Linked DNA regions of Homo sapiens: region 2 is linked to region 1. Evidence: fine-mapped expression QTL. A gene starts in region 1. The other region holds a variant in brackets. All regions are shown on one strand. Distances are between the middles of the regions.

The links.
Region 2: its variant is fine-mapped to the expression of LYRM2 in whole blood (TOPMed, PIP above 0.99).

What each region holds. Positions count from the first base shown.
Region 1 is chr6:89,634,770-89,642,769 of GRCh38, forward strand. It overlaps LYRM2 (LYR motif containing 2), which reads right to left and starts at 3,978. Exons shown (of 3, transcript NM_020466.5): 1 at 3,903-3,978; 2 at 2,973-3,113; 3 at 1-2,584. The coding sequence starts at 3,947. The coding sequence ends at 2,504. MDN1 (midasin AAA ATPase 1) reads right to left here. Exons shown (of 102, transcript NM_014611.3): 102 at 7,729-8,000. MDN1-AS1 (MDN1 antisense RNA 1) reads left to right here and starts at 3,763. Exons shown (of 4, transcript NR_111915.1): 1 at 3,763-3,867. RefSeq lists enhancers at 2,726-3,925, 3,278-3,507, 3,728-3,777.
Region 2 is chr6:89,720,477-89,733,931 of GRCh38, forward strand. MDN1 (midasin AAA ATPase 1) reads right to left here. Exons shown (of 102, transcript NM_014611.3): 34 at 12,081-12,299; 35 at 10,250-10,447; 36 at 8,455-8,663; 37 at 7,357-7,479; 38 at 4,723-4,920; 39 at 3,036-3,143; 40 at 2,479-2,667. Among named protein-coding and RNA genes, the nearest start is that of LYRM2, 88 kb to the left of the region's middle. RefSeq lists an enhancer at 686-1,187. The variant A/G (reference allele first, on the strand shown) is at 6,969.

The sequences.
Region 1 (8,000 bases):
AAAACTTCTAACTTGATGGCACTTTTTTATTTTTTTTGAGACAAGAGTCTCACTCTTTCGCCCAGGCTGTAGTGCAGTAGTGTGTTCTCGGCTCACTGCAGCCTCTGCCTCCCGGGTTCAATATGAGGCAGCCCTCCTGAGTAGCTGGAATTACAGGCACGTGCCACCAGGTTAGGCTAGCTAGTGGCCTAGCTAGTCTCGAAATCCTGACCTAAAGTGATCCACCCACCTCAGCCTCCCAAAGTGTGTGGATTACTTGTGTAAGCCACAGTGCCCGGCCTTACCTGCTTTAAAAAACAAAAAAACTTAGGTTTTCTTGGAGTCTGTGCTAGTTGAATCTTGCAAATGCAAACCACATACGCTCTTTAATGAAAACCTTTCCATGCACACCACTGTTAGGAAGAGCATCATTAAATCACTGACTTCTACACCCATAAAAGGATGATTTTGAGTTTCAAGATTTTAGATTTACTAGAGATAGCATGTATCTATCAATCATGTCACACAAAAAATATTTCCAAAGTGTTCTCTGTTCAGAAACGTCACAAATGCTTCTGTTTGTCAGATCATTTTGCAACAGGTTAACTAATACTTATCTACATAAAAACCTGAAAATTGGCACAGGCAGGCATTTTGAATTAGTAGATTACCCCCATGGAACAGTATTCAGAATTATTTTGTCTTGTGGGCTCTGAGGCTCTGGGAGGTAGAGGTGGACCCTGACAGTCCAGGTCATTAACATCCACATTCAGTTGATGCCTCTCAGACACAGTCCAGTACTGGATACCATTTATCATTCTGCAAAATGTTGTCTACATCTTTCAGGTGCTGGTCATTCTTAGATTAGCTTCTTAGCTGTTCTGTTGATAAACAGAAGACTTCAATTTTCAGGATGGATGATTCCAACATCTTCCACAAGCTTTCACTTTCACTAAATTATTTTGTTATAAATTTGATCTCCTTCAAAAGTGCCTTGAAGTCAATTTTGGTTGTAATGTATTTGTCTCTGACGTATTCTTCAAATTCTCTTTGTTTTTTTTCCTGTCATTGGAGAACTGCACCCAGAATCTTATTTTTACTACTTCCATGTGAATGTTAAGGTACTCACAGAGGTTTCATCCAGAAGTCTTCCCTCTTCTTTCTGGTAAGTGCTTCAATGTGCTCATTAAGCTTCTCTTTCTCTTCCCTTTTCAACAAAGATCTAGATTCCCAGTGGTGATCTTTTTGATGAGTTCTCTATCAAACTATGACACATCTGAAGAACGTACCTGAACAACCCTCAGGGATAATGCAGGATTTTTCGAGAAAGTTCCAGGGTATCTCCTGGTGTCAGTATACTTTCAGTCCTACACCTCAAGAGTTTTTTAATAACAGCTTTATTGAGATACAATTCATACCTTACATTTAAAATGTACAGTTCAGTGGATTTGAATATATTCAAGAGTTGTGCAGCCTACACCACAAGCTAACTGTAGGATATTTTCATCACCCTGAAAAGGAACCCTACACCCATTAGCAGTTACTCCATTCCATCTACAGCCAGCCTAGGCAACCACTAATCTTTCTGCCTATTCTGGACATTTCGTATGAATGGAATCATCATGTGATCTTTTGTGACCGGCTTCTTTCACTTAACGTTTTCAAGGTTTATCCATGTTTAGTATATATAAGTCCTTCGTTTCTTTTTAGTGCCAAATAATGGCTATGGGCATGGGGTAGAAGTGCTAACTCATACAGCAGCTGTTTCATCTTTTGAGGAACTGACCGTCTGTTTTCTGAAGTGGCTACACCATTTTACATTCCCACCAGCAATGTATGAGGGTTCTGTAATTTCTGTACATCTTCACCAAGACTTATTATTATTTCTCTTTTTAATTACAGCCATTCTAGTGAATGTGAATCTCAGGGTTGTTTTTTTTTTTTTTTTTTAGAGACTGTCTCACTCTGTCACCCAGGCTGAAGTGCAGTGGCACGACCTCAGCTCACTGCAACCTCCACTTCCTGGGTTCAAGTGATTCTCCTGCCTCAGCCTCCCAAGTAGCTGGGACTACAGGCAATGCACCACCACACCAAGCTAATTTTTGTATTTTTAGTAGAGATGAGGTTTCACCATGCTGGCCAGGCTGGTCTTGAACTCCTGACCTCAAGTGATCCACCTACCACAGCCTCCTAAAGTACTGGGATTACAAGCATGAGCCACTACACCCGACCTCATAGTAGTTTTGATTTACACTTCCCTAATGATTGTGTCCAGCATCTACTGGCCATTTGTTAGTGGTTTTTTTCTTCTTTTAAGAACTGCTGAGACATCCATAAACATTTTCAAAATGCAGGGTATGTTTTTCAGTGTTAAGGCAACTGTTCTGATGTGTTTTTCCTTTGCTCTCTATCACCAAATACTGTACATATAAATAGTAAGACTGGGCTTTGTGTTGTCCATTGTTAATCCTAAATGCAACAAAACACATGGAGACTTTGAAAATCCTTCAGAATAATGCTATAGTTAAGATTTTGCTAAAGCAAGTGTTTTTTCTAACTCCTTGAGCTGCATATTGCCTTGAGTAATCATCATCCGGATTGTATCCTGTAGAATAAAGTGAAATCTGGTTATAGTTTTACCTGGTTAAACAAGGTATAGCTATACCATTTTATCTGTTAAAATCAAGAACCAATACTACCTATTGGAACTGCTGCCTTTTAGAAAAGCTAAAAGAGTTCCACATACATACATATAAAATGTACAACATAAAAGTCAAGTGATGATGCTGAAGAGTGTAGATACTCTTTTATCTACATATTTTAAAATACTAAATTTTAAAATAATAATTTAAAATCGGTAACATTACAAGCAATGATCAAGATATACCAGCTCAGTGGCACTATATTCCAAGATGTCTGCTAAACTTAAAAAAAAAAATTCACTGATCAATAAAAAGGGTTAGGATCTGTCCTCACCATGATTTTGTTCTCACCTCTTCGGTGGCACTTTTGTTTCTTCTGAATTCTTCTCTTGCCCAATCTTTCAGGTATTTGCGATCAGAATCATTTGGAACTTGCCGAATTGTTTGCAAAATCCTTCTGTAGAGGAGAAGAACTTGTTGCCTTCTTACGAACTGTAAAAGGGAGGAGTAAATAGCAATTACTACTGCACAATCGCCAGCCTGGAAAGTTCTACTTCAGCAAACCAAGCTGTAACCAGAGTACTTCTCGTTGGTCAATTTTGAAAAAGGCAAAGAAAAACTTTTTTTTTTCTTTTTTTGGCCAGATGCAGTGGCTCAGGCCTGTAATCCCAGCACTTTGGGAGGCCAAGATGGGAGGATCACTTGAGCCCAGGAGGTCTAAGCTGAGGTAAGCCTTCATTGCGCTACTGCACTCAGCCTGGGCGAGAGTGAGGCCCTGTCTCAAAAAGATGTTTTAAAGAAAGCATCACGAGGTTCATCTGATCTTTTTGCTTACTGCTCTGTCAAACCTAAGAACCATTAAAAAATCAGGAGCTGCCTACCGGGCTGAAAAGGGCTGCCGGTCTCCTAGAAGTTGTTATTACAACGACAGCACTTTTTCTAAATTAACAGTTGTTCAAATCTTTGGTAATCTCATTTGCTGTTTGCCACAGCTCAGTGCAATAGACTTTTACCGTGGGCACTGGGCAGCTGAGGCACCGGGACTCAGGGAAATCAAGCGCCTGACGCTGTCTCACGCGATCGCACCAAACCAAGGAAGCAGCCAGTGCCTCCCGTCAGGCCCCGCGGAGCGAAGCACCGCCCCGCAGGCATCGGGCCAATCTCAGAGGGCGCGCACGCCGCATCAGGACCCCGGAACCCGCCCCGTTGGGGATAGGGACAGATGGAGAATCCAGCTCAGACCCAGGTAAGCTGCTTTGGAAGGCAGAGAACCGCCGGTACCTGCTTTAACGTTAGCGTCGCTGGGGGTAAGCGGGAAGCAGCCATGTCCACCAGAGGTCCGCCGGAGCCTCAGCGCGCAGGAGCGGAAGTGGGGTTCGACCAAGGGGTGTGGCGAGCCCGGTTTCCTAGGAGACGGCCCGCGGGTTGCTCTCGGACTGAGAGCGCGAGGCTTCGGGACTGAGCCCTAGCTGCTGCGCTGGCCGAAGTTTTCTCGTCGGTAAAATAGGATAACAGTGCACCATAGGGTCGTTTTGATAAAGAAGAAAGGTAGGGCACTTAACACAGTTCCTGGTAAAGAGAGTTCAAATGAAAGTGAAGGAGGCCGGGCGCGGTGGCTCTCACCTGCAGTCCCAAGCACTCTGGGAGGCCTGTAAGGTGCCTGTAATCCCAGCTCCTCGGGATGCTGAGGCAGGAGAATCGCTTGAACCCGAGAAGTGAAGGTTGCAGTGATCCGAGATCGCACCACTGCACTCCATCCTGGGCGACAGAGCGAGACCCTGTCTCGAAAAAAAAGTTAAGGTTTTTTTGGGGGAAAGAGGTGAAAACGTATTTAAATGTTCTTTCGAGCCTTTAAAAATGTGTATAGTTGAAAATACTAAAATTGAAAGTGTTAATTTCTTTTACAGTTTGTGTTGGTTTTTTCTCTTTCTCGTTTTTGTCCTGTTCTTTTGTAGCGCAAAGGTTTTCCGGGAGCGGTGGCCTTCATGATCATTTGAAACAAAGCTTTGAATGGCTCACCCACTTCAGTCTTAAGCACTTTTCATCACTAATAACGAGGAGCCTAACATCCCTAAGCCTCAGGCTTTTGCTTTTATTTCCTTATAGTTGTTTTATCTTTCCCACAATACACATGCCTTTGGGTTAAATCACTAGAAGTGGAGTTAGCGAATCTTTGCCATATTAATTTTCCAAGTGGTGTTGTATCGAATTAAAATAGAACGAAAAATGTTCAATTACTAGTTTACTGGGGACTTGCTTGCCTCGCCTGTTAGCATCCTGGGGCTCCCTATTCCTAGCTGTGTTCTGGCTATTTCCCCTCTCCTGGCCTATTACCTCCCCTGTAAAGTGAAATATAGCATCTACCTCAGTTGTGTATCTCTAATGTACTGAGAACAGGTCCTGGCACATGTAAGAACTCTAATCATTAGCTCTTTTGAACTTTACCAGGCATTGTATGAATGATGCTAACTGCATGATCATATTATCAATAATATATGCCAAATTTTGTCTAATACATTAGCTGTAATAGTTAATTGCTAACTTTTTAAAAGGAGTGAAGTTAAATACCCCTCGCCATTTTTAGTTATACTGTTTTTGTGAATTGTTCATGACTTGGGTCCGTTTATGATGAGGACATTTATATGGGCTCTATATTTTTTGTCATTTCTTTATACATACAGAAACTTTATACAATCATGTATTTTTGTGCCTTTTGAGGCTTTTCATTTCCCATTCAGGCCTTTGTAATTCGTTTTTTAAAAACTTTAATTTTTAAAATATTTACTCCATCTAGAATTTACTTTGGTTTACAGCATCACGTGGATCTAAGTTCTTTTCTAGATGTTAAGCTGTATCAATACCATTGATTACATAACTCATTCCTTTTTCGGGGCTTTATGATGGATGCCTTTTTGACTGTATGATAAATTCTTTTAGGGTCTGAGTAATCTGTCCAGAATTGTTTCATTTAGGGTTAAGTTTTTACTTTTTGTTTTATATGTTTTTATTATCTGGCAGGACTCTAGTTTCTTGTAAAAAATCCATTAGTACTGTTCTCTATAATCTTTAGAAATGTTTTGTATCATTTCCCTCCAAATCATCTTGTGATCTTGGTTGGAATTTTGAAGTAGTGTTGAATCTATACATTAATATGTGAGAAAGACATTTTTACATTATTTCTTCTTCCCATCAAGAAACACTCAGGCCAGGTGCGGTGGCTCATGCCTATAATCCCAACACTTTGGGATACCGAGGTGGATCACCTGAGGTCAGGAGTTCGAGACCAGCCTGGCCAACATGGTGAAACCTCGTCTCTACTAAAATACAAAAAATTAGCCGGGCCTGGTGGCGCACGCCTGTGGTCCCAGCTACTTGGGAGGCTCAGGCAGGAGAATCGCTTGAACCTGGGAGACGGAGGTTGCAGTGAGCCGAGATTGCGCCATTGCACTCCAGCCTGGGCAACAAGAGCAAAGCTCTATTTAAAAAAAAAAAAAAAAAAAAAAAAGGGCTCACTCTTGCTAGACACTGGTAATGCTGTCGTGAGTCACATATGCTCCTTGCTCAAAGACTCATGCTTTGGGCAGGAAAACCTCTAAGTTCAATATAGTGCTAACAAAGAATGCTGCAGTTCATACTGTGGGAAATTATTCTTCCTGGAGGGCTTGTCTGAGCTAGGTATTTGTCAGAAACGCAGAATCACTAAGAGGATTCCAGACAACACATGGAAACACTGGCAGGAATGCTGGGAGAGGAGGGACAGGAGAGTCAAGCAAGAGCCTCACAGGTCACATGAAGAAGCTTGAATATTACCCTCTTCACAAGGGAGAGCTTTGAAGGGATTTTCAGCTACAGAACTTTTAGAAAGATCTTGGATGTTGTGAATAGGATGAAGTGAAGCAAGCAAAGAGAAGTTACTGGCCTGGCCAGGATACCATTGAAGTAGTCCCTGCTAGAGATTAAAAGAGTCCCAGTCACAGTGCAGTAGGGGGAGGGGGAGGGATGGGACAGGATATCCAGAAGCCTGACTGGACAAGATGATTAATTAATTTGATTGGGGTATGGATAGAGATGGAGAAGGAAGTAAAGCAGATGTATAGGTTAAGTCCCAAGTTTGTAAACAGGGTGGCTGTTGGAGTGGTCATCCCAGATGGGGAATGTTGAAGGAATGGGTTTGGAATAGGGGAATTAGAACACAGTGACATCCAGCAGATGTCTGAATATAATTAAGAATACCAAAGAGTAGATTTCCTGGACCCCTGGATGGAGAATTTTACAGTCCTTTTGCTTCAGTGATGGTGGAGGCCACGGGAGTGGTGAAGAAGTTATCCAAAGTGAGATTTTATTGTTGTTGTTGAGATAGAGTCTTGCTCTGTTGCCCAGGCTGGAGTGCAGTGGCACAATCTCAGTTCACTGCAACCTCCACCTCCTGGTTCAAGCAGTTCTCCTGCCTCAGCCTCCCAAGTAGCTTGGGATTACAGGTGCGCGTCACCACACCCAGCTAATTTTCTGTATTTTTAGTAGAGATGGGGTTTCACCATATGGGCCAGCCTGGTCTCAAACTAACTCCTAACCTTAAGTGATCCACCCACCTTGGCCTCCCAAAGTGCTGGGATTATAGGCGTGAGCCACTGCACCCAGCCCCAAAGTGAGATTTTTAAGACAGCATGGAGGACTTTTGTGTTCTGCTGTCCATTCCTTAAATATCAGAACTTACTTACTTACCTATTTGGCCAAGGCCTGGGGGGTTGGGGGAGGGGGGGGTGGGCAGGATAGCACAAATGTCAACTATCAACATGGCAGATTAATTGATCACTACTCCTGCAAGCCCCTGTTGGCAGCACAAGTTGAAAATGGCACTCTTGGGTTCCTGCTTCCTGGAATTCCTACTGTCCATGATCTCATGAGCTAACCCAGGGCCAAGGGAATCACTCTGGGCACACCAGTTTGAGGTCTAAGAAAGATGGAGCTTCCAAAGGCAGATGTAATAGACTGCAGCATTGTCATAATATTGGTGTCTTTCCCTCCCAGACTCAACCCTACTGGAAGATTAAACTCCCTGCCCCATAGAGGGCTTTAGCCAATGAAATGTGAGTGGGATGCAACATCATCATTTATGGAGGATAATTAATTTTTATAAGCCTCCTTATAAGGCTACACCAACTCATCCTTTTCATTCTGCTGCAAAGCCAGCATATTATAGCTCAGCCTACCATGGACATAAATGCAAATGATAACCTTTGTAGTAAGAGCAACATGGAAGTAGGAGGGGATCATGTTAGCACAGCATCAACTAGTAACAGCTGACTGACTGATCCAGCAGAGAAGATCAGTCCCCTAGCATACCTTTTACAATCCTGTCATCTTCCATTAAGAAGAGTC
Region 2 (13,455 bases), 88 kb after region 1:
TTCTAGCTTTTACAGACTTTATCCTTCTATAACATTATTTTTCTTGACCTTGTCTCCCCCGCTAGAAAACACCTATAAGGTCCATTACAATAACCTTGAATTGGAAGAGTGATGGAAAACTTCCACATACCACAATGACCCAGCACCTGACTAATCAATCATTCAACAACTGGCATGTGTTTTGGTCATAATTAATATACTATAAGTGGATGAAGAAATTAAAATACTAGCTGATTATGTGAATTATATATCAATAAAGCTGTTAAAAACTACTAAGACTTTCTCCTAATCAAATGATTGAAAGTCACCTACGTATGATAAATGAGTTAGTGTGTAATTAGATTCTGAATACCACACTAAAGAAGCTCTGGGTGGCCGGGCACAGTGGCTCACTCCATTTGTAATCACAGCACTTTGGGAGACTGAGGCAGGAAGATTGCTTGAGCCCAGGAGTACAAGACCAGCCTGGACAACACGGCAAGACCACATCTCTATTAAAAGTAAAAACAAATTAGCCATGCCTTGGTGGCATGTGCCTATAGTCCCAGCTTATCAGTGGGCTGGGGTGGGAAGATCCCTTGAGCCCAGGAGGTCAAGGCTACATTAAGCCGGCATTGTGCCACTGCATTCCAGCCTAGGCAACAAAGTCAGACCCTGCCTCAAAAAAAATAAGAACAGCTTTTCGAGGTAGGAGTCGACTCCTGTGAGGTATGGTGCTGGGTGCAGATGCAGTGTGGCTCTGGATAGCACCTTATGGACAGTTCTGTCCCAAAGGAGGGATGAGAATAGCTACTGAATTGTTTCTTCCCAGGTCCTAAAGAGCAAGCCTAACTCAAGCCATTGGCACACAGGCATTAGACAGAAAGCTGAAGTTGAAATGGTGGAGTCCAACTTGTCTGGACCAGCTTAACGGTTCTGCTCCTGGTAACGTTTTTATCCGTGGATGGCTTGCTTGGGTAAGGACATGAAGACAGTTCCTGTCATACCTTTTAAAGGTATGGAGAGTTGGCTTGACTACCCTGTGTGGAGCAAGTTTTAAAGAAGCAAAGAACTCAGAATTCATGCTTGAAGAAATGCAGGCAGACCTGTTATCCTAAACTAGGGTTTTTAATGACCACAACAAGCAAGCATGCAGCTTACTGCTTGAAAGGGTCTTGCCTCACCCAAGCTGGAGTGCAGCGGCCTTTGAAGCTTACTACAGCCTCAAACTTCTGGGCTCAAGTGATCCTCAGCCTCCCAATGGTCTTTGTAGACCGCCTGATGGAGTCTCATGGCACAAGAAGATTAAAACAATGTCTCCAATTTTAATAAATTTTTGCAATCCAAAAAAAGAAAAAAAATAAGAACAAACAGAATGGGTAGCAGAATGAAAGGGCTGTGAAAGTCACATGTGCTATGGGCCAGCCACATGTTCACATTTCAACAAGGAGGTTACTGCTTCTAGTGCATGCATCTATGTATCTATTCATTTATTTTCAAACAGTGAAGTTTACTAGAAGGAAACAGCAGACAAACTGGAGAGGGCCTAAACTGGAAAGCTGGCTCTGCTACCTGTGACACTCCATAACTTTAAGCCTTGGATCTTCACCTGTAAGATGCCATGACAGCACCTCCTGCCTATAGCTACTGTGAGCATTCAGCGAGACAGGATTTTAAATACCACAAACTAAAATGCACACGTTATTACAATTCCTTACAGTGGGAATTCTAGTTTTACAAACAGGTATTTTTATTTTCACTTAAACACAGAATATTCTCTCTTTATACGATTATACTTTCTAGACAAAATGCTTTGTAATTTGACATTTATTTAAAAACAAAACAAAACAGAAAAACTTCCTCTTCTACGGAGTATCACCTGTCTGCCTCCTCCTGCTTCTCACCTTGGTGCCTGTAAAGATGGTGAAGACTTAGTTCTTTACTACTGGAGGGCAATACTGCTTTAAGGTATGTGATCATGGGGATTTGGATAGATAAGCAAATTATGTCCTCTAAAGCAAGCTACTCTATATTGTGAGACCCCAAGGTAGGAGAACGTTTAGTCTGTTCTTTTAACTTTTAAATTTTGAAGCAGCTTTAACAGGCTTGCTAGCCGGGCGTGGTGGCTCACGCCTGTAATCCCAGCACTTTGGGAGGCTGAGACAGGTGGATCATCTGAATTCAGGAGTAGAGATCTGCCTGACCAATATGGTGAAACCCCGTTTCTACTAAATACAAAAAATTAGCCGGAACTGGTGGCTTATGCCTGTAATCCCAGCTACTTGGGAGGCTAAGGCAGGAGAATCACTTGAACCTGGGAGGTGAAGCTGCAGCAAGCCAAGATTATGCCATTGCACTCCAGCCTGGGCAACAAGAGTGAAACCCAGTCTCAAAAAAAAAAAAAAAAAAAAAGGCTTGCAATTAGTGTATGTCCTTTCTCACCCACAGGAAATCAACTTTCAGATGGAAAGAAATACAAATACCAAGCGTGAAACTCACCTTTTTTTTGTCCTCTTCGGTTCTCATTCTTTCACCATAGACCAAAAACACATGCTGACCAGGATCATAACACCCAGGGGACTGGTCAACCAGCATCAACTGACACCAGCGGAAAAGGTCCCGGAGGTTGAATTCCCAGGGTCCTCCTTTTTGCCCCCATTTCTTCTCAACAGTCACTTCATGATCAATCTAGAAAGAAAACATCCTGATTGGGAAACATGCCCTGCTTACTACTAGGCACTGCATTAAGTACTAGGAATGTACTACAAAAGCATATGTAATCTGAAACAAAAATTAACAGGCTTGATTCAGAGCCTCTTTCTCAAGACTTCCAAATGCCTGGCTTATCCTCTAAGCATTAACACTGGTAGTCACAATACAGAAATGAATTACTGGAAGCCTCCACTACATAGTGTCCCTTCCACTAGAAACCTGTAGAATTCAAAGTAATTTTTTTTAGTTAGAGATCCTGATAATTTGGTAGAACTCTATGTTGAAAAAATACTGGTTCAAATACAGCCAGAAAAAAAAAGAAACCAATACGTGTAGGTACTTACTTGGTTATTGAAAGCAACCATTTTCTTAACAATATTTTTCTCAATGGCTGGAAACAAAGTACTGGCAATGAACTCCATGTCAATTACTGTAAGGGGATCAACGAAGACCTAGAAATCCAAAAATAATATGAAGAAATGCCTTTGTTTCTCTTTACCAAACACTAGAAATGACTACCATGTCTTATTATGCAAAATCTTTAATACCAAGTAACAATACATGAGAAATATAATTTTCAGTTATAGAAATTTCTTTTTTTGTGTTTTGAGAATAAAGAATCATAAAATCTTCTAAATACAGCTGAGTAGAGGTTTTGTTTTTAAGGTCTATTCTAGTGAATTAAAGAAAAAAGAGGCCCAGTGCGGTGGCTCACACCTGTAATCCCAGCACTTTGGGAGGCCAAGGCAGGTGGATCATGAGGTCAAGAGATCAAGACCATCCTGACCAGCATGACGAAACCCTGTCTTCACTAAAAATACAAAAATTAGCTGGGCATAGTGGCATGCGCCTGTAGTCTCAGCTACTCAGGAGGCTGAGGCAGGAGAATTGCTTGCTCCCAGGAGGAGGAGATTGCAGTGAGCCAAGATCACGCCACTGCACTCCAGCCTGGGCGACAGAGCAAGATTCCATCTCAAAAAAAGAAAAAAAAAAGATACATGTTATTAAAAATTTCCTATGTATAATGTAAAATGCTTTTAAATCTGGGTGGTAGATACGAGTATTCACTATAAAAGTCATCCAATTTTTCCATATGTTTGAAAGTTTTCTCAATAAAACATTCTTCTTTTTTTAAGATGGAGTCTCATTCTGTTGCCAAGGCTGGAGTACAATGGCGCGATCTCAGCTCACTGCAACCTCCGCCTCCCGGGTTCAAGAGATTCTGCTGCCTCAGCCTCCTCAGTAGCTGGGATTACAGGCACCTGCCACCACACCCAGCTAATTTTTGTATTTTTAATAGAGACGGGGTTTCGCCATATTGGCCAGACTGGTCTCGAACTCCTGACCTCAGGTGATTCACCTGCCTTGGCCTCCCAAAGTGCTGGGATTACAGGCATGATCCACCATGCCCAGCCAATAAAACATTCTTAAAAGATACTCAGCCAATTCTTAATCATAAGAGACAGTGACACTAAAGAAATCTAGAGACATTTCCAAACCTCTGGATTGGCCAAACTCTGAAAAACTGATGTTAAAACAAGTAAGCATACACATACACAGGTACCCCTCTGCAAGTAAGAATAAAGGCATAAGATACCAAAATGTTAATAATGACTGACTGGGGAATAGTGGATTTTTATTCTTCATAGTAGTTTTCTGTTCTTTCTTTTCTTTAGTTAAAATGCATTATTTTCAATAAAAATTTTTCTTATATATTTCAACAGATCAGAGGGACAATTGAAAAGGTCCAAGATTGGACTTCATCCCAGAGTGCAGTCACAGAATCCTGAAAAGGCTGGGGACCTTACTTTCTTCCAGCTGATAACACATCTAGTCTTCCAGGGCAAAAGATGAAGGACAGAAGCAATGATGGGAATCAGTCACATTAATATTGATCATATAAGGACAAGAAAGAGGATCATTAAGCTGATCCTCTCTAATTCTCATAGTGAATATCCTTAAAGGCTTCATAATAGTAGTCTTATCCCCTCCGAGTCTATCTTTGGTCTCTATGGCAACAGCAAATCTTACCTGAGTGAATCTGTTAAGGAAAGACCTGGGCAAGCCTTTCCTCCCACCTCCTTGTCTAAAGGGATTCTGACACCCAAAAATCTTCGTCTTTTCATGCTGCACTTGAAAGCTCATTCCTAACTCAGGCACATAGATTTCTCCTCGGTGGTCAAAACAAGCATTGAGTCCTTCCAATACAGACTGAGAAGCCAGGTTAAGCTATTTAAAGAAGAAAGTACATAATTTGTCTCAAATATATTATACAACTGCAACAAAAAGCAGGGGAATAATATGCAGCAAATAAAGCTAGAGTTATCTTCAGAAAGGGAATTTCAAACAATATTGATAACCTTCTGTATTTTTGGCTGAGTTATGGTTGGTTTGTCTTCATTCTATTATGCTTTTGTTTTTGAGACAGGGTTTCACTCTGTCACTCAGGCTGCAGTGCAGTGGCACAATCACAGCTCACTGCAACCTCTACCTCCAGGGCTCAAGAGATCCTCCCATCTCAGCCTGCTGCATAGCTGTGACCACAGGTGTGCACCACCACATCCAGCTAATTCTTTTTTTTTTTTTTTTGGTAGAGCCAAGGTCTTGTTATGTTGTCCAGGATGGTCTCAAACTCCCGGGCTCAAGTAATTCTCCAACCTTAGCTTCCCAATGTTAGAATTACAGGCATAAGCCACTGTACCTGGTCCAATTCTATTATTCTTTATTTCCCATGTATGTTAGAGATTTTGTCTGGTATTTTATACACACACACACACACACACACACACACACACACACACGTATATATACACACATATATTAATAATCTTTAAACTGAATAAATGCTCAAATTAAATTTTAAAGTTAAGAATCTTCTCAAAAGTTAAACTGTATCCATTACATATAACCTATATTAACCTGCTCTGTAAGTAATAACTTGCAGAAAAACTTGCCAATACACAGATATTTCATTTTCACAATCTGAGTTTTTAAGATGTGTAACACAAATTAGCCAGGAGTGGTGGCTCATGCCTGTAATCCCAACACTTTGGAAGGCCGAGGCAGGTGGATCACTTGAGGCCAGGAGTTCAAGACCAGGCGGGCCAACATAGCGAAACCTTGTCTCTACTAAAAATACAAAACTTAGACATTGTGGTGCATGACTGTAATCCCAGCTACTCAGGTGGCTGAGGCAGGAGATTCACGATTCAGTTGAACCTGGGAGGAGGAGGTTACAATGAGCCGAGAACCCACCACTGCACTCCAGCCTGGGCGGCAGACTGAGACTCTGCCTAAAAAAAAAAAGAAAAATAGAAAAAAAAAAAAAAGAAAAGAAAAAGAAAAAGACATGTAACACTAATTGTAGAGAATAGATAAGGTTTGTTAACTCTTTAAATACTTTCCCATCTCAAACACTGAACAAAATCTCCAACGGGTTTCAAAGTCAGGATATAAAGTGAGTTAATACAGCTGATTTCCACCAATTTTGTAAATAAGAACAATTACAAGGGGCTCTTGTGCCAGGATGAAAAGAGCTGAATGTAGGTCTTCAGATGAGTAGTTCAGAGCTCAGGGATGTGAAGCATGTGTGGTTTGTTGGTAACATAGAAAAAGGAGATCGGGAAAATACAAGTTATTAAAATGCAAACAGGCAAAAATCAGAGCACACTACATTAGAATTTCAAGTGTCATGTTTACACAAGCACCACAAAGCACAAACACTTCTGTATATTCCCAAACAGAAGGCCGCTCTTAAATGTGTTTATAAATCTAGAATGTCTTGTCGTCCCTGAATGCAATTCCACTAAATATGCAATTCCACTAAATACTAAGTATGGTCAGTAGCCTTCAGCTTTAAAACTAGGCTTTCTCTTTTCCTGGCTAATATATATTCTATCAGACATCTTGTTCAAAAAAAAATCTGAAAAATGGAAAAAAATTCCCTCTCCTTGTTATCCCAAGAATAAAAGGCAGAAAGCAGCTCAGCAGACAGGAGTCCCACAGCACCCTCTCTGATGATCAGACCCAGGAGTCTGAACCTGGGGGACCTGTTGCAGCCTGTGTCCAAAGTCTCACCTGTGACACGTACATCACTCTAATCATTTCAGCTCCACAAATATTTCTAGCCTTTTCCTGAATATTGTACACCCCAAACTGACCCAGCTCCATATCTCTAGTTGTCAGAGATTCAGTATTTATCATGTCTCATACTCTGCTCTTTCTTCTGATGAATAATTTACCCCATATGCACACATAACGGATCGTTTCCTCATTTC[A/G]GTAGGTCATTTTGTATGTCTTTCCTTAGTCTCTCCGGTGCACTAATAAAACATGAAGCGGTTGACGCTATTTATAAAATGCCTCTAAAATAAATGCAGAAACGGCAAGCCTGTCAGAGACTAAACTAGTGACGATGCAGTTTTCCTCTGAAGGATAACTTTAAACAGTGGGAGAGTTTGTAGGTTTTATGTACAAGGGCCTCTTTTTGTGTATTCTGCCAAGTGACCTTCCTCATTCTTAAAGAAAACTACAGAGGATCTTTTCATTAGAGAAAAGTCATCAGCGGGATCTTCCACTGAGAAATGGATTGTGAAATGGAGCTGTGAAAGGATGACTGCTCCTCACACACATGATCACCGTCTTGGGCATGACAAACAGGCCCCTCACCTCATCCAACACCACCCAATGGCCTGCCTTCAAAGCTGCCAGTAAGGGGCCATCACGCCAGGCAAACTCTCCTCCCTTGCCACCTTCAACAGGTAGATCTGCTCCAAACAGGTCTGTGATGTCCTTTGAAAGGGGAAGAAATGGAAAGAAGCCATTATTACTTTAAAAATCAACTGGATTCTAACACCCTAAATCTGAAATGATAAATACTTGGGGCTGGCACCACTACTCTTCCTTCCTACACCCAAGATAGAACTAACCAATCCCAGCTCTCTTTACCAGGAGCCCAAACATGCCCCCAAGAACTTTCCCAACATGTTCCATATATCAATCAATTTGAGCTGGTGCTCTAGATTAACAGTTCTCAACATTGGCTGTACTTGGAATTTAATTGACAGGCTTAAAAAAAAAAGAAAACAAAATCCTATTCCAAAGGATTCTCATTCAATTTGTCATCTGTACCATATTTTCCTTAGATTGTTAAAAGTCATTTTATTTCTACCACTTTTTAAAAAAAAATTTAAGCAAAAAATTAACTGGGGTTATATTACAATAAATACCAAAGTGGATAATTCTCTCTCGAAAGAGAATTAGAATAAAGCATCCAGAGAGAATTAATATTATAGGTGTCAGCAATTAACAAATCCAAAGAAGATTTAGTTTGGAAGGTCATGTTGCTGTGGGCTTTATTATGATATGAAATATCTGAGGATACAGGCCAGGCGCCATGGCTTACGCCTGTAATCCCAACACTTTGGGAGGCCAAGGCAGGTGGATCACTTGACATAAGGAGTTTGAGACCAGCCTGGCCAACATGGTGAAACCCTGTCTCTAATAATAATACAAAAATTAGCTAGGTGTGGTGGCGGGCACCTGTAATCCCAGTGATTAGGGAGACTGAGGCAGGAGAATTGCACCCCACTGCACTCCAGCCTGGGCAACAGAACGAGACTCTGTCTCAAAAAAACAAAGAAAAGAAAAGAAAAGAAAAATTTGAGGATACTGATAATGTAATCATTTCTGATTAGGCAAATATAAATTGACACAGACATTACTATCTATAGCTATCTCCATCAGCTGTAGGATGACCGAGCTTACCGTTTGCTCTGATAAGTTGATTCTAACAAGGGTATTTCCTGAAGCCTTTGCTAATGCTCCCACCAAACTTGTCTTGCCAACACCAGGGGAACCCTCCAGGAGAATGGGCTTCTTCAGTTTGGTAGCTCTTAAGAGCCTCTGTGCATTCATAGCAGTGGTCCCTGCACTGAGTGCATAGTCTGCAATATTATTCCTGTGTAGGACAGGTCCTTAAGTGGAGAAAAGTAAAGTCATGTATAAGCGGGACATCATCAAATCACATGTATGCATCAACTCAAGATTTTAAAAATCTACCACATGGGTTATCAGTTAGTGAAATACCATTTGCAGTGAAAATGTTCAATCCCTATTTCAATATTTCCCCACTTTTAGATCCATAAAATGCTTTAAAGGAATATCCAATAACACGTTTTCTTCAACAGTGCCTACTACACAGATCTCTCCATCTCCTATACACATACATGTACATGCAAACACACACCTGTCCTTTCACAACCTACACCCTGAATCACTGTATGTACTTGTACAATTTACCTTCATAGTTACTTTCCTAAAAACCAAGTGTAAGCTAGGCATATGGGCCACATGGTTCCACATAATCAACTTCATCCAATGTTTTTGGCCACCAAAACAATTCACACTGTGTCCTTAACCTGTAAGTTAACTGATATGCAGGACTAATAACAGTCTTGTAATATTTAACATTTGTGCCACTGTCTCTTGGAAGAAGTTTTTGTTTTGTTTTCGTTTTTTTTTTTTTTTTTTTTTGTACACCAGTTTGAAGGGAGTGAGGCTAGGAAAACATTTATTACCTCACCCTTGGTAGCAGAAGCAAGGACCACCCCAGTTCTAGGCCACTAGCATGTATCTCCTACACAGGAGCACTGAGTCCTATGATGGTGGCTTAGAGAAGGGATTTGATGGTTAGATTATACAGCCCATCAGGGATGAAGAGAGAATACTGCTAAGGAGAGATGGAGCTCTGAGGACAGGGGCAAGGGCAATGGAACCTGGACTGGTTATGTTCACCACTGAAACCCCAGTAATTGCCACTGCAACTCCATATACTTCAGGCATTCATCAATCATTAACATAGAGAGGGCGGAGGGACAAGAAACAGATGACTCTGCTACAGAAACAACATCCTGAAAAAGTAGAAGCACCTTAGAAGTAGCTAATCTAACTGCCTCATTTAAATACTTGGTAGAGACAATCTAGTTAGATAGAAAGAGAGAAAGAATTAGAACACAAACCCACTATCTCCTAGACTACTGCATTTCCCATTTAATCATTCACTCATCCATCAGAAATTTTCTGAGTGCCTATGACTGTGAGGCCTAAATGTCAGATGCCAGGGACCGGATCAGGAATGACACATTACCAGCCTTCAAGGGTTCACAAAACCTGTTTCTGTAAAAGATGATGAGGTTGTATAGTTAAGATACATTATAGGCTAAATAGGTCTTTGCAAGCCACTTAAAAGTTTATTGTCAACATTAGTAGAGTTTAGAGCTTTACTATAGGAAAGTTCCTAATGTGGGAACCAACTAATAAAAAAATAAGCACTGTATAAGACAATCTATTTATAGATTGAAGTCTCTATTTCCCTCTATTTTTACATGCCAGTCAGGTATTTTCAACCATTCACACAATTATGGTTATTCTCAAGTCAGAATCTAACTCAGTTAGTGCAAATATAATCATGAGTATTACACATTAAAACTAAGTCACAATAAAAGCCAAGTATCTATGATCTATAGAAAAGGAAAATTCATTTTTTAAAAATCATTCTTACCCCTTGGTATAAAAAATGGATGAATTCCCCAAAGGTTATCTATTCCAGTGAATTCTTTGGCCTTCATTCTGTCATAAATCTTCAACTCATTTTTCTGATATTCTGTAAGTCGTACTATCTTGGCAAGCCTCTTGATTAGAAATTTCAGACATTCTTTTCGTGCCAAAAGGGCTGTACCAAACCCAGAGGAAGTTACCCCTAAAAGACAGAGGATCAGTCCATGAAGCAACAGTACAACACCAAGCTTCACCACCATTAAGCAGGAGCTCTAGCACAGGTTCCCGGAAAAAAGAGGCCTCAGCAAAACTGCAGCCTAAATGTGATTTCTAGTGTAAGCAGTCCTAAGAAAGAAGTCCAACACGCATCCCCCACAATCTATGGATTATCAATTAAGCAGCAGATCATTCAGTAAAGCACTCTAGTCACTCAGTGATAAATCAGCCTACATACAGTACCTAATATGGCACTAGTAACCATTTTTATTTATATTTCAAATCTTCATGGCTGAAAAACCACAGTGATTTTTATGACATTAAAATAAACTTAAAATATTCAGGCCCATTATCAAAAAATTACTACTCATGTTAAACATTGGCCAGTGCTTCTATTCACAATAGCAAAGACTTGGAACCAACCCGAATGTCCATCAATGATAGACTGGATAAAGAAAATGTGGCACATATACAGCATGGAATACTACGCAGCCATAAAAAATAAGTGCATGTTCTTTGCAGGGTCATGGATGAGGCTGGAAACCATCATCCTCAGCAAACTAACACAGGAACAGAAAACCAAACACCACATGTTCTCACTCATAAGTGGGAGTTGAACAATGAGAACACATGGACACAGGGAGGGGAACATCACATACTGGGGCCTGTCAGGGGATGGGGGGCAAGGGGAGGGAGAGCATTAGGACAAATACCTAATGCATGAGGAGCTTAAAACCTAGATGACGGGTTGATGGGTGCGGCAAACCACCATGGCACATGTATACTTATGTAACAAACCCGCATATTCGGTTTCTCTTCAAATAATCTGATCAATCTTTTATTCTTTAATTCATAGTACCGCCCCCCCCCCCCACCTTTTCCTTTTTCTCCTTTTTTCCTTTGTTAAATGCCCAGGCATGCCACAATACCAGGCGTTATCAATACCAGCTCACATTCCTTTCCTTATTTAAAAAAAAAAAACTAACTTTCTAACTCATTACAAACACCCCTCCCCCTTCCTCTCCACTTTCTTTAACATGTCCACCTTATCTAAAAAAATTCAAATGTCTAGCCAACCAAAATGAGTTTAAATTATACAACCCAACCCCGGCCAATAAAAGAAAAATACAAAAACAAAACTTGCATCAAAAATAAAGGCTCTCGTGCCCTTTGTTCAAGTGTACTCTCATGGCAACTGGCCAAAAAAACACCCCTCTGCACAAAAATAAAATTGCTTTGCTAAAAACCCTTTGTTTAAGTGTTCAATTTCTTTACAATTTTAAGCATTATTCCTAACACATGTATCCCAGAACTTAATTTAAAAAAAAAAAAAAAAGCCAGTGCTTCAGAAGCAAAGACATTTCAGCAGTCTTTACTCTACTCATAATCACCACTTCATGTTTGTTAAGTACCTGGTCTACCAGCTTTGAGAAGTTGCAGTGTATCCTGTGTGCCAATCACCTTTCAAAGAGTACAAACAAAAGGAAAGCCATTCTGAGTTTTAGAAATGTTCTGAGAAGTGATTCAGTAAAATAGCTGGGTCAGAGGCCTGGGCTTGCTCCTTTTCCTATGCCCCTCTATACGAGCCCCTTGTCCCCACCAGCTACCAGACAACATACCTGAACCTATTCCATCTATGTACACCAGGCATGCAGCATGGACAAAAGATGTCACAGTGGAGATGATCTCTGGCCTTTTCAAAGCAGCTTCCTCCCCCATTTTGTTCATGAAGTTAACCCAGGACAGGATATCTCTGATACTGACCACACACTTTCTGCCAAACTCTTGGTGGGTCAGCCAGTCAATGAAATCCAGCATCACTTCAGGTATGTCAGACCCTAAACACAAGAAACAAAAAAAGCATTTGCTGTTAACGGGAGATCCCAGAACAAAAGTTCATAACCAGGGGCACACAAATGGCCTAAAAGGGGTCTCTGCTCCTTCTAAGCAAAGTTCTGTGAATGAATGTACATAAATGCTGTTTCTAACAAAAGCAGCCTGCAGCTTTGATCAAATTCTGAAAGGATTCATCAATAGCAGTCCATCCCTATCCAAAGAACAAAACAAAACCTTGGGAGTTATAGTTTTAGATACTGACCTGAAAACTGCTCAAAGAAATATTCATTTGATTTGAGTTCGGACACAGTTTTGAACTTCTATTATAATTATTTTAGAAAATATGCAAATTTTGTTATATCTTATAATTTTACTTGTATTTTAAATAAATTTATTTTTTCCATTTAATGCAATAAAGAATGTCATCTTTTCAATGGCATGCATTCAAGTTTTTTTCTTTTTTCTTTTTTTTTACATCTATTCAGCAATCAGAATTCAGCAAATTAGGGGGTTCACAAATTTTGTTTCATGAATCAAGTTGAATATTCTAATTATCACAATTTCCTATCAGATAATATTTGTCTCTAAATAAAGAAAATACTTAAGTAGTATATATAGATTCAAAGTAATCCCAATTAAATTGAGCAGAGTACTTTATAAAACGTCTTAAGTCAACAACAGTAGACATTTATCTCTAAAGTATGAATATCAAAGAATATTTTAAAAAGAAAGAAAAGATTAGAAGGAAGCACTGCTATAATATAAAGCAGCCTCCAAAAGCTATATATATATACAGCCTCCAAAGCTATATAGATTGTGATTTAGAAGAAATGTAATTGGTTGGAAGAATACTGATTACAAAAAAAAAAAAACTCTTTAAAAAGAGCTTAAAATGACAAAGCAAAGGGGAAATTCCAGTAACAATGAGGAAACAAATTAAATGCTATTTCAACAACTAGATAGTAAATACTAGTACTTAGATCTACACTTCAGAGAAGAATAAATTCCAGGTAAATTAAAAAAATGAAAATGAAAAAATCCATTAATAGAAATTAAATTTTGACCATTTAAGAAACAAAATCAGAGAGAAATAGGTTCACATATGTATTTTTAAAACAAATATATAAAGGTAACAGAATATTAAAACCTGTGAAAAAT